3 linked regions of the Homo sapiens genome follow. The protein of the gene in region 1 purifies or fractionates together with the protein of each later gene. This does not show direct contact. Each region holds a gene or a part of one and is shown in the gene's direction. Other genes may lie near its edges.

Region 1 (3,650 bases):
GGCTGTGTCTGGCAGCAAATTCCATCTTGTTACCTGTCCTCGCTTGTATAGGTAATCGTGCATTTTGCCTCTATCACTTACATGCTAGCTTCCAGGCCTAGCTTCTCCATTCACAGGTGTGACAACTGTGCATTCTGATGCCTCATCTAAGATAAGCTCTGTCCAGATTCACAAGCCTGAGTCTCATTATTTTCTGCTAGTTCTCACTGATTTTTTTTTTTTTTTTTTGAGACAGAGTCTCACTCTGTCACCCAGGCTGGAGTGCGATGGCGCCATCTTGGCTCATTGCAACATCTGCCTCCCCAGTTCAAGCGATTCTCCTGCATTAGCCTCCCAGGTAGCTGCGATTACAGGTGTGCACCACCACGCCCGGCTAATTTTGTATTTTTAGTAGAGACGGGGTTTCACCATGTTGCCTAGGCTGGTCTCGAACTCCTGACCTCAGGTGATCCGCCCTCCTTAGCCTCCTAAAGTGCTGGAATTACAGGCATGAGCCACCGCACCTAGCACTGACTGATCGTATTCTACTCTTTCAAAGTCTTTTTCTGTCAGGCTTTCTTCTCGTTTTCCCCCCATTCTAAGAACCTTGCATCCCTTCTAAAAAAATGGGATAGACTGGGCATGGTGGCTCACGCCTGTAATCCCAGCACTTTGGGAGGCCGAGGCGGGCAGATCACGAGGTCAGGAGATCTAGACCATCCTGGCTAACACAGTGAAACCCCGTCTCTACTAAAAATACAAAAAATTAGCCAGGCACGGTAGCACGTGCCTGTAGTCCCAGCTACTCGGGAGGCTGAGGCAGGAGAATCGCTTGAACCCAGGAGATGGAGGTTGCAGTGAGCCAAGATCACGCTATTGCACACCAGCCTGGGTGACAGAGCGAGACTCTGTCTCAAAAAAAAAAAAAAAAGGGATAAAGAGGCATTCTCCCACCCTTTTGTCATTTCTACTTGCCAAAAAAAAAACAACAAAAAAAAATTAGAACATAAAATGAGCCACTCTTCCAGGCAAAAACAAACAAAAATAAAATTTCACACACCCTGCAGGTCACCAAAGCCATTCCTTGGGTGTGTACATGTTTGTGTGCATGTATATGTGCTTTTTTAATGCTTTTTTTCTTTTCTTTTTTTTTTTTTTTGATACGGAGTTTCGCTATTGTTGCCCAGGCTGGAGTGCAATGGTACAATCTTGGCTCACTGCAACCTCCGCCTCCTGGGTTCAAGCAATTCTCCTGCCTCAGCCTCCTGCGTAGCCGGGACTACAAGCATGCACTATACCCAGCTAATTTTTGTATTTTTCATAGAGACGGGGTTTCACCATGTTGGCCAGGCTGGTCTTGAACTCCTGACCTCAGGTGATCTGCCCACCTTGGCTTCCCAAAGTGCTGGGATTACAGGCATGAGCCACTGCACCCGGCCTTTTTTTTTTTTTTTTTTTTTTTTGAGACAAAGTCTTACTCTCGTCCAGGCTGGAGTGCAGTGGTGCGATCTTGGCTCACCGCAGCCTCCACATGCTGGGTTCAAGCGATTCTCCTGCCTCAGCCTCCCAAGTAGCTGGGACTACTGGCACATACCACCACATCGGCTAATTTTTGTATTTTTTGCAGAGATGCGATTTCACCATATTCCCCAGGCTGGTCTCAAACTCCTGACCTTGCATTCCTCCTGCCTTGGCCTCCCAAAGGCACTGGGACTACAGACGTAGGCCACCATGCCTGACCCATTTTGCTTTTATTTAGTTTTGTTTTTTGTATTCAACCCTCAAGATTTTTATTTAATTTCTCTGAAGCGAGCACAGTTATCAATGGATTATTATTATTATTATTATTATTATTATTATTATTATTATTTTGAAACACAAACTTATGGAAAAATTGGAGGTACAACATAAAGAACTTTTCTCCAAATCACTTGAGACCTAATGTTGCATCACTCCCAAATGCCGTAGTGTTTTACAAGCATTCTCCTACATGACCACAGTGTGCCCATCCAAATTAGGAAATGATCATTTACACGTTATTACCATCTCACTCTCAGACCCCATTGAGGTTTTTCCATTTGTCCCAATAATGTCCTTTTTAGCAAAAAAGCCCAGTTCACACTCACAGGTTACATTTGGTTTTCATGTCTCATCAATCTCCTTATGTCTGTTGCATGCTGTCAGGTGGCACATGCAGCCATTTGTCCCATTACTGTTCATACTTGGGTCATTTGATGCAGGTGGTGTTTGCCAGGTTTCTTGACTGTAAAGTTACTCTTTTCCTCTTTGAATGTAATTACTATTTTGCTGGGATGTGCTTTGAAACTGTGAATACTCTATTCATCAGACTTTCCATGTATTTATATTTGTACAGACTCATGCAATGGTCTGTAATTTTGATGCTCAAATTATTACCAATTTGAGGCCAGGCATGGTGGCTTACACCTGTAATCCCAGCACTTTGGGAGGCCTAGTTGGGAGGATCACTTGAGCCCAGGAGTTCAAGACTAGCCTGGGCAACATGGTGAAACCTCATCTCTACAAAAAATTAGCCAGGCATAGCTGGGCATGGTGGTGGGCGCCTGTGATCCCAGCTACTCAGGAGGCTGAGGCAGGAGAATTGCTTGAACCTGGGAGGCGGAAATTGCAGTGAGCCAAGATCGCGCCACTGCACTCCAACCTGGGTGACAAAAGTGAGACTCCGTCTCAAAAAAAAAAAAAAAAAAAATTAGCAAGGCATAGTGGCATGTGCCTGTAGTCTCAGCCACCCGGGAGGCTGAGGCAGAAGCATCACCTGGGCTGGTGAGATCAAGGCTACAGTGAGCCATGTTCACACCACTGCACTCCGGCCTGGATGACAGAGTGAGACTTTGTCTCAAAAAAAAATAATAATAATTACCAATTTGGCCAATGGGAGACTATTCAAGCTGACTTGTGTCTTTCTAACTCATCCCCATCATTTCTTCACACGTTTCCTTGCTTTCTGGCACAAGATAGTATTCTTCCTCTGCTCTAACCCTGGAATCAGCCATTTCCCCAGGGAGCTCTGGATCCTTTTAGTGGAAAGTCTAAATCTTGGTATTTTGCAAGATCTGGATGCTAGGTGTGCTCATTGCCATTGGGGTGCCACTGCTCTGCATGCTCTCAGTGGACACAGCCAGGGAATGTGTGTGTGCTCATTTCTGTGTGGAATGAAAACCATGTGTTCATGGTGCTACCTCATGACGGAGGTCATTTTCATTTTTTCCCTTTCCATGTTTGTAGCTCTCCTCTCTGATGGTGAGAAACCTGGTTTCTACTATCTTTAATATTTTTACTTATTCCCTGTGCATGTGGCTGATCTGTCATTTTTGCTGCCACTCACTCCTCTGCTCAAACACCCTTCTCTCCCTGCTTGGTTCTCACTCTCCGTTCCAGGCCACCCCCCTGTGTGGACACTTACCTCACCCACTTGGGCACCAACACATCACACCAGGTGATTCTAATAGGTAGCCAGGTTTGAGAACCACCAAGAGTTTTCAGGTTGAACTGCACTTCAATCTTTTTATCAAGCATTTCCCACCCCATTGCTAACTCTTACTGGTTACTAGTTATTAGCAAGCTGCCAAACATTCTCTTTCATAAGGAACAACAGCCACAATGCTTGCTTCTCACTGCTGGAAGGCATTTAA
Region 2 (3,750 bases), on another chromosome or scaffold:
CTGTCAGAAGAGTTCGACAAGCAAAAAGCATTTGGACTTCAACTTAGCACATGACAGATGGTCTCTGAATAATAATCAACATTATTGTCTCTTGATTCCCTGGACTTGCCCATGAAATCCAGAGAATGAAGTGCAACCAGAACTTCATTTTCTTCCTTTTTTTTTTTTTTGAGATGGAGTCTCACTCTTGTCGCCCAGGCTGGATTGCAATGGCGCGGCCTCACCGCAACCTCCCCTCCCCGGTTCAAGCGATTCTCCTGCCCCAGCCTCCCGAGTAGCTGGGATTACAGGCGCCCTTCATCACGCCCAGCTAATTTTTTGTATTTTTAGTAGAGACGGGGTTTCACCATGTTGGTCAGGATGGTCTCGAACTCCTGACCTCAGGTGATTCACCCGCCTCGGCCTCCCAAAGTGCTGGGATTACAGGCGTGAGCCACCGCACCCGGCCCAGTACTTCATTTTCAGATGCAGACATGAAGGACCAGAAGGCTGAAGCAACCTGCCCAAAGCCACTATGCTGGCGGGTGGCCGAGTTTGGGTTTAATCCAGGCCCGAACCTCAGTTCCCTCAAGATAAAGTTGGGGTGATTATGGCACCTTTCTCAGGATTAGGTTGTGAGGCTCAGATGCCATCATGCAATCATGGCAGGCACACGGGGGCCCCTCTTCAAACGTCTGTGCGCTTCCCTTGTGCCCCGCCCTGGCACACAGCCGCCCCCGCGGAGCCCAGGGATCCCAGCCCGGCAGTCCTCCGTCAGCTGCTTCTGTTTGGATGGCGGGGACGGCTGGGCCGACAGAGAGGCCCATTGTCTCCGTCCTCTGGGGCTCTATTGTTGGGGCCTCCTCCTGGGTTGCAGCCCCACGGACAACCCCAGCTGTCGCTTGGGCCTGGCTCAGCTTACCCCGGCGGTGAGGGTGCGGGTCGGGGACGGAGACGCGTGCACCCTGAAGACAGTAACTAGGCCTGCTCTACAGAGGGAAACGCAGGCTCTGAGAGCCTACATGTCTTCGCCGGGAGTGCTTGTCCCGGAGCTGCTCGCAGACTGGGCCGGGGGTGGGCTCGGGTCGGAGAGGTCACGGGGCTCCTTAGGTCACAGGCGGCAGGGCCAGAGAAACTCCCCCGCCCCTACGTTTAACTCGCGGAAACAAGGGCCCAGAGAGCCCAGACGCCAGCCCAAGGTCACACAGCGAAGCCCCGGCACAGCCCGCCGGGAACCTGTCGTTTCTAACCCCCAGCCTCTCGCCGTTTCTACCCAGCTTGGGAAGCGCAGGAACAGGACATACGGTGGTCGCGCCCCTTCCGCGAGGCCGGGGTGAAACCCGCTTGGCCCTCCCGCCAGGGGGCGGAGCTTCCGAACCAGGCGGGATTCCACCGGGTATTTGCCTGCGGAGGCGGGACTTCGGGCTTGATGGGCGTTGGGGGTGGCCTTCCTGCGGGCAGGCTCTCTGTGTCGCAACACTGGCGGGGCGGGCCAAATCGGCCAGAGCTCTGCCCCCAGAGGACGCGGCTAAGCCCGGGGGCGTGTCCTGGGCTGGCCCCACCCGCGCCCCGCCCCGCCCCGCCCGGTCGCGGAGCTGCGGCCAGCTTTGGGAGGGCCGGCCCCGGGATGTGAGTGCCGCGGGGCGAGGGCGGGGGTGGGCTCCCAGGGGTCCCGGTGGGCGGGCGCGCTAGGGCGAGGGCGGGGACGGCCGGGCGGGCGCGCCAGGTAAGGGCCCAGATTTGCTGGTGAGGGGTGAGGGACGCTCGGGACGGGTGTTTCCAGGCCCTCCCGGCGCGCCAGGCCAGCCCCGCGCCCCTGCTCGGTGGCCCGAGGGACGCGCGCCGGCCGCGGGCCTGGGCCCGGACCCGGAGCGGTCGGGCGATGTGCGCGGGTCTGACGTCTGCGCTGCCCAGCCCCCTGGCTACGCGGACGCCCCCACGGAGGCAGCCACTGGGGCGGATTTCTGTCTCTGGGTGACGACTGCCAGGGTGTGATGGGAAGGGTTAGCAGCGCAGCGGGGTCAGGGGATCCCCGCCCCCCGCCCTGGCTCAGGTTGGGTCCCGACTTGGGTTTCTGAGTGCTTACTGTGCTCAGCTCCTCAGTTGCATTCTCTGAGTCCTCACAACAGCCACACATTTTGCAGCCGAAGCCTTGTGCCACACAGCTGTGGGGGCATTTATTACGGTGCAGAGGTGATGCGCGGAGGCCTTGCAGCCAGACACACCTGAGTGCACGCCTGCTTCTCCACAGACCTGCACTGTGACCTTGGGCACACCTGGTCTGCTCTCTGAGCCTCTGGTGCGATTGTGGTGCCTACCCCCAGGGCTGCTGTGAGGACTGGATTGGAATTGGGTTCCGGGAAAGGCAGCCAGTTTAAGCAGCTGTTGTTGAGGGGCCCTTGTCTGCGGCTGAGGGGCTAGTGGTGCTGGGCAATGGCTGGTGGGTCAGTCCAGGCGGGCTCGGGAGGGAGCTGCTTTCTGCCGAGGCTGCCCCAGCTGTGCGTCTGTCTTTTTCCACACGGTAGGCTACACACAACCCAGCTGTACCAGCATGTGCCAGAGACACGCTGGCCAATCGTGTACTCGCCGCGCTACAACATCACCTTCATGGGCCTGGAGAAGCTGCATCCCTTTGATGCCGGAAAATGGGGCAAAGTGATCAATTTCCTAAAAGGTATGGAAGGTCCCCCTTGGACTCTCATCTGCTTCCTCCAACCCACCTGTCCTCTCCGTCCTCATCCCCAACATAAGCCTCAGGCTCTCTCCCATCTTCAGTTTCAGCCCTCGGATGGCCTTCCACCCATGCTTCCGCCCAAAATGATTTTTCCAACACAGACTCCTAATCACGATATGATGTCCCTGACTCAGACTCTCCCTGGCTCCCCATCCTGTGGGCCTAAGTCCTGCCTCTGCCCAAGAGGCCTAGTGGAAAGGTAGCTGATTACTGATGGGCACAGGGAAGGTGAAGCTTGGAGGAGTCCATTTCCTAAGGTTCAGAGAGTCAGGAGGTAGAGCACCTCCACCGCACCTCTCTTGATTACAGATGGGGGAAATTGTGTCCTAGAATGATTAGGAAACATGTGCACCCAATTCCAGTCCAGTCCTCACAGCAGCCCTCGGGGTAGGCACCACAATCGCAGCAGAGGCTCAGGAGCTCACTGTAACCTCCGCCTTTCAGGTTCAAACAATTTTTCTGCCTCAGCCTCCCAAGTAGCTGGAATTACAGGCGTGAGCCACCACACCCGGCCCTGATTTCTTAATATGGCACTCATTATAAGATTGTAAAAGCCCACCTGTAGACCGAACTGGGCACACTGGCTGCCTGCTTGTGACCTCTTTCCAGGGAAGGACACAGCTCCCATTAGTGGCTGAAGTAACACAGTTACAAGAGGCGGAGTTGGGTTTGGAACTCAGAGCTCCAGGCGCCCTACCTTTAGGGCTCATCCCCTTGAGCAAAATGATGCTTCGAAGAGCATATCGTTTTAACTGTGGTTTGTAATCAAGGGGCCTGATTTAGGTGGGAAATTCACTTAAACTTGTTTTAAAAGGAAACATTATGTCATCAAAATGGGAAAAGGCAGTTTCACTTGCCATAAATAGGTCATGGTAAAAAAGTAAATGCAATGAAAACAACAGTATAATTCAATCCAGGCTGGTTACTATTGCCTGCAGGCTGTGAGACTGATTAGTGGTTTGAACGGAAGATGAGCAAAGCACAGGCAGGTGTTGCGAGGCCATGCCACACTGAGCCTCCTGTAATATCATCAGAAG
Region 3 (3,529 bases), on another chromosome or scaffold:
GTGAGTCTAAAGGACTCGTTTGAGAAAGGTTCCGGCTTGGGGGATTCTTTGAGCCTGGGCATGGTAGCACCATAATGGCAAGAATGAAGAGATGAAGAAGAGGGGGAAGTTTTCTTCCCTTACCCCATACAAACATTTACTTACCATGAGGTCCAGCTGCATGCACTCTAGATGGGTCACATATACGGCCACTGTGTTGCCATTTGTAGGGGAAGGGGTTAGGTAGTTGGCAGAGGGATGGGTTGGGTCCTTGGAAAGAGCCTGTTGAGTTGATTGATTGAATTTATTTTACTGATGAGGAAATTTCTTTTGGTCCACCATGGGGGAGCATAAATCCTCATTGTTTCCTCGCTTGCAGGGAAGATGCTGGGCCAAGCGGCTTTTGACACCCAGTATCTCTGCCTAGTTCTGCTACTCACAGAGCCACCCAGTTCCCTCATAGACCAGCTCACCTTCTGTGAGGCAAGAGATTATCCTCTTGAGAAGGTGGGGCCCGTGCATGTGATTCCTTCTAATGGAAAGGGCTGCCTTGCTCAGCTCCTCATGCCCTGCGAGACCAGCGATCTTCCATTTTTAATCCTTGATTTCAACGAATGGCTCCATGGGGCCTCCTCAGAGCCAGGCACCAACAGACAGAGCCCCGGGAGCTCACAGAGTGGAGGCAGAGGCCATGCGCTGAGGCACAGCCACATGGCCCAGCCCCAGCTAGCAGAAAGCAGCCAGTTCTCTGTCTATAGTGGCCAAAGAATCTTTGATCCTGGAAGGTTCCTCTAAACCTGTGGTTCTGTCCCCTGGCTCAGAAATGATCCATTGTGGCTGCTTATTAAAAATGTCTGGTTGGCTAATTAGCTTTCTTTTCTGAATGTCCATTAAGAGTCAGATTTCAGTCTCATAAGCGTAACTATCACATATCTGTGCGCCACAAAAATTCCGCAAGCTGTGACAAAAAGATTCATGATGATTGTGATAACGATAGCTGGTGTTTATTGATTAGGCACTCTGGAGAATCTCATTTTTCCTCATGACAGTTCTGGAAAGTGAGAATTACTTAAGCACAGAGAGTTCAAGTGACTTGGCCAAGGTTACACAGCTAGTAAGGAACGAACCAGGAATCACACTTAGATTTTGTCTGTTTCAAAAACCAACACCCATCATCAGTCCTAATCACCGTGCTGTGGCAGAGATGGCCTTTTACTAAGAGACTGTGAGATGTTCCTAATTGTTTTTTCTTTCCTTGTTCAGTGTGACAACATCTGGGGTGATGGAAAGTATGAAGAAAGTCAAGAAGGTGACCAACGGCTCCGTGGAGCCCCAGGGCGAGTGGGAAGGCGCCGTGTGACAGAGCCGACCCTGAGGATGGCACTGTCCAAGGAAACTGTTAACTTATTCATAGTCCTATTGGACAGCAGGAGCAGCTCCTACAGTGAACTATTGGCACCACCGACAGTGACACCAGGGCACATGGCTGGAGCACAGTGCCGCGGAAACCTGATTTTGTACTCTCTTTTATGGAAACGATCTGTGGCTGTTTAGAGGCAGCTGGATCCTCTTTCAGGCGGGAATGGGAGGGCGGGCACAGGGAGGAGGAGAGGAAGAGAAAAGGAAGAATTCATTTTTAATTTAGGTTTCTTTTTTTCTTCTTCATTTCGGAGCTCTAAGGTGTATGCAGTTGTGACCCCATGTGTGGGGAAGTGTAGCAAGGACGGCTGGTGGAGGGGGAAGGAGGGTGCGAGGTGTCTGTCTGATGCTTTAGGAAATGTCTACTGAGGACCCTGGGACTTAAGAAGAAGGGCGGGGAGAGTGCCATTGCCTGTTTGGGAGACAAAAATGAACGAAAACAGGTGACTTTGGAAAGCAAAGTCAAAACCCAGTTTAGGATGTAGCACCTGCCCCAGGATTCCTGCCCTCGGCTTTGCCCCAGACCCTTATTCCAGATGCTGAGAGTGACCAGGACAGCAGCTCCTGAGGCCCAGTGGTCTTCTTTCCAACAGGAAAAGAAGGCTGTGATGTCGCTGTCAGGATCATGCCCTGTGGCACAGCACAGGTGGTGGGAGGTGGTTTTCTGACTGAGATGTTGCCTGATGGATGGAAAGAAATGTATTTTTAAGTTCAAAAAGCATTATCCTGTGGCGTTGCCTGGACATCCACTCCCTGACAGCCCAGAGCAGCACTGTCTGGCTTCCCTTCATGCTTGTGGCTTTGTTGTGTTTGATCAGAATTTTGGGGGAAATGGAAAGTTTTCCTCAAGGAGCAGCTGGGGGCAGAATAGGTAGTATTTAAGCAAATACTTAAGTCCAAGCAAATCATCCCCATTAAAAAGCTTTTCCTGTAGGCTAGTAGGATTTCTAAATAGATGAATTCAACAGACTTGGTCCCCATAGTCCAAGAGTATGTATGTGAAGAAAGTGAGCATGATTCAACAGTTTCACTCTCAGGGATTTTAGGATGGCAAAATACTTCACAGAAACTCAATGATTAAGTTCCCTTCCACACTTCCAGAGCTTGAATGAACACAGGTAGCCACCTAAATTGAGCAGTATTGCAACTCAGAGAGAAAATCATCTGAATAGTAGGACAAGCTCAGAAGGTACATTGTGACTGAGGGCTTAAAAGGAGACCAAAACATGGCCCCATCAGGGAAGCTTCTTAATGCTTGGGGGGCCAGCTAGGTAGGGTTGCTTCCAAAAGCTGGAGCCCACCCCTGCCTAGGGGTTGTCAGAGAGCCACACCTGCAGGGGAACAGGTACCTCCGAGGGTGAGAGTCGTGGTCTCTGGGAGTTGTTTTCTCACCTCTGGCTTAGAAGGGTCAGGCAGAAACCACAGGATGTGGGGTCACACTCACTGTCCCAAGTTTGGGAACCTGAAAAAGTCTCCATTCAGAACATGGTTGTTCTCCCTGTCCCATGCTATCTTATCTTCCTAAATGACTAATGAGGAAGCGGGTGTTCTTTTTCTGCACTTTGATTCGCCATCTGGGTTCTGTAGGGTGCTCTGAAGGTGTGATCTGCCTTCTGGCTGATGTGGAGGAAGAGCAAGCGCCTTCCCAGGCCACAGCTGCTCACCTCTCGGCAGATATTTTAGGCAAGCATCCGTGTGTCTTCCCATCTTCAGGAGAAAGGTAAATGCACCCTAAGTGTTCACTTCTGGACCTTTTTCAAGTTCACTTGGGACTGTGTGACAGAAGGGAGTTGGAGGGAGGATGGGAATATTTTTAACACTTTGTTTTCCTGTGCAGAAACATAATACCAGTTTTCGCAGAAATGTGTCTCAATCTGTGACTACCAAAGCCCTCCTCAGTCCTTCCCTCAGAGGGACACATTTGCTGTTTCTCCCGCAAGCAGATGTTGTGGATGAGGCGATAGACTCCTTGGCAAGAACGAAAGGTGTGATGAAACCTCCCTGCTCGGAAGGGTCTCCGTGGAGGTGTCCTCATTTCACATGCTGGGTTTTGCAAGCGAGGAAGCCAGGCAGTGGAGGAACTAGAGAGAGGCAGGCGTGTGTGTGGACAAGCGCTGGAGCCGCAGCCCTC

The links.
Region 2: the proteins of SYAP1 (region 1) and HDAC11 purify together in Homo sapiens (co-immunoprecipitation; one large-scale study listed by IntAct). This does not show direct contact.
Region 3: the proteins of SYAP1 (region 1) and GPR107 purify together in Homo sapiens (affinity purification with mass spectrometry; one large-scale study listed by BioGRID and IntAct). This does not show direct contact.

The regions. Positions count from the first base shown.
Region 1 is NC_000023.11:16,750,558-16,754,207, forward strand, and holds part of SYAP1 (synapse-associated protein 1), read left to right. Parts: intron 1-3,650.
Region 2 is NC_000003.12:13,478,742-13,482,491, forward strand, and holds the start of HDAC11 (histone deacetylase 11), read left to right. Parts: upstream 1-1,564; 5' UTR 1,565-1,606; coding exon 1,607-1,608; exon of another isoform or gene 1,609-1,705; intron 1,706-2,504; coding exon 2,505-2,653; intron 2,654-3,750. UniProt on the Homo sapiens protein: Responsible for the deacetylation of lysine residues on the N-terminal part of the core histones (H2A, H2B, H3 and H4).
Region 3 is NC_000009.12:130,133,783-130,137,311, forward strand, and holds part of GPR107 (protein GPR107 isoform 3 precursor), read left to right. Parts: intron 1-1,242; coding exon 1,243-1,339; 3' UTR 1,340-3,529. UniProt on the Homo sapiens protein: Has been proposed to act as a receptor for neuronostatin, a peptide derived from the somatostatin/SST precursor.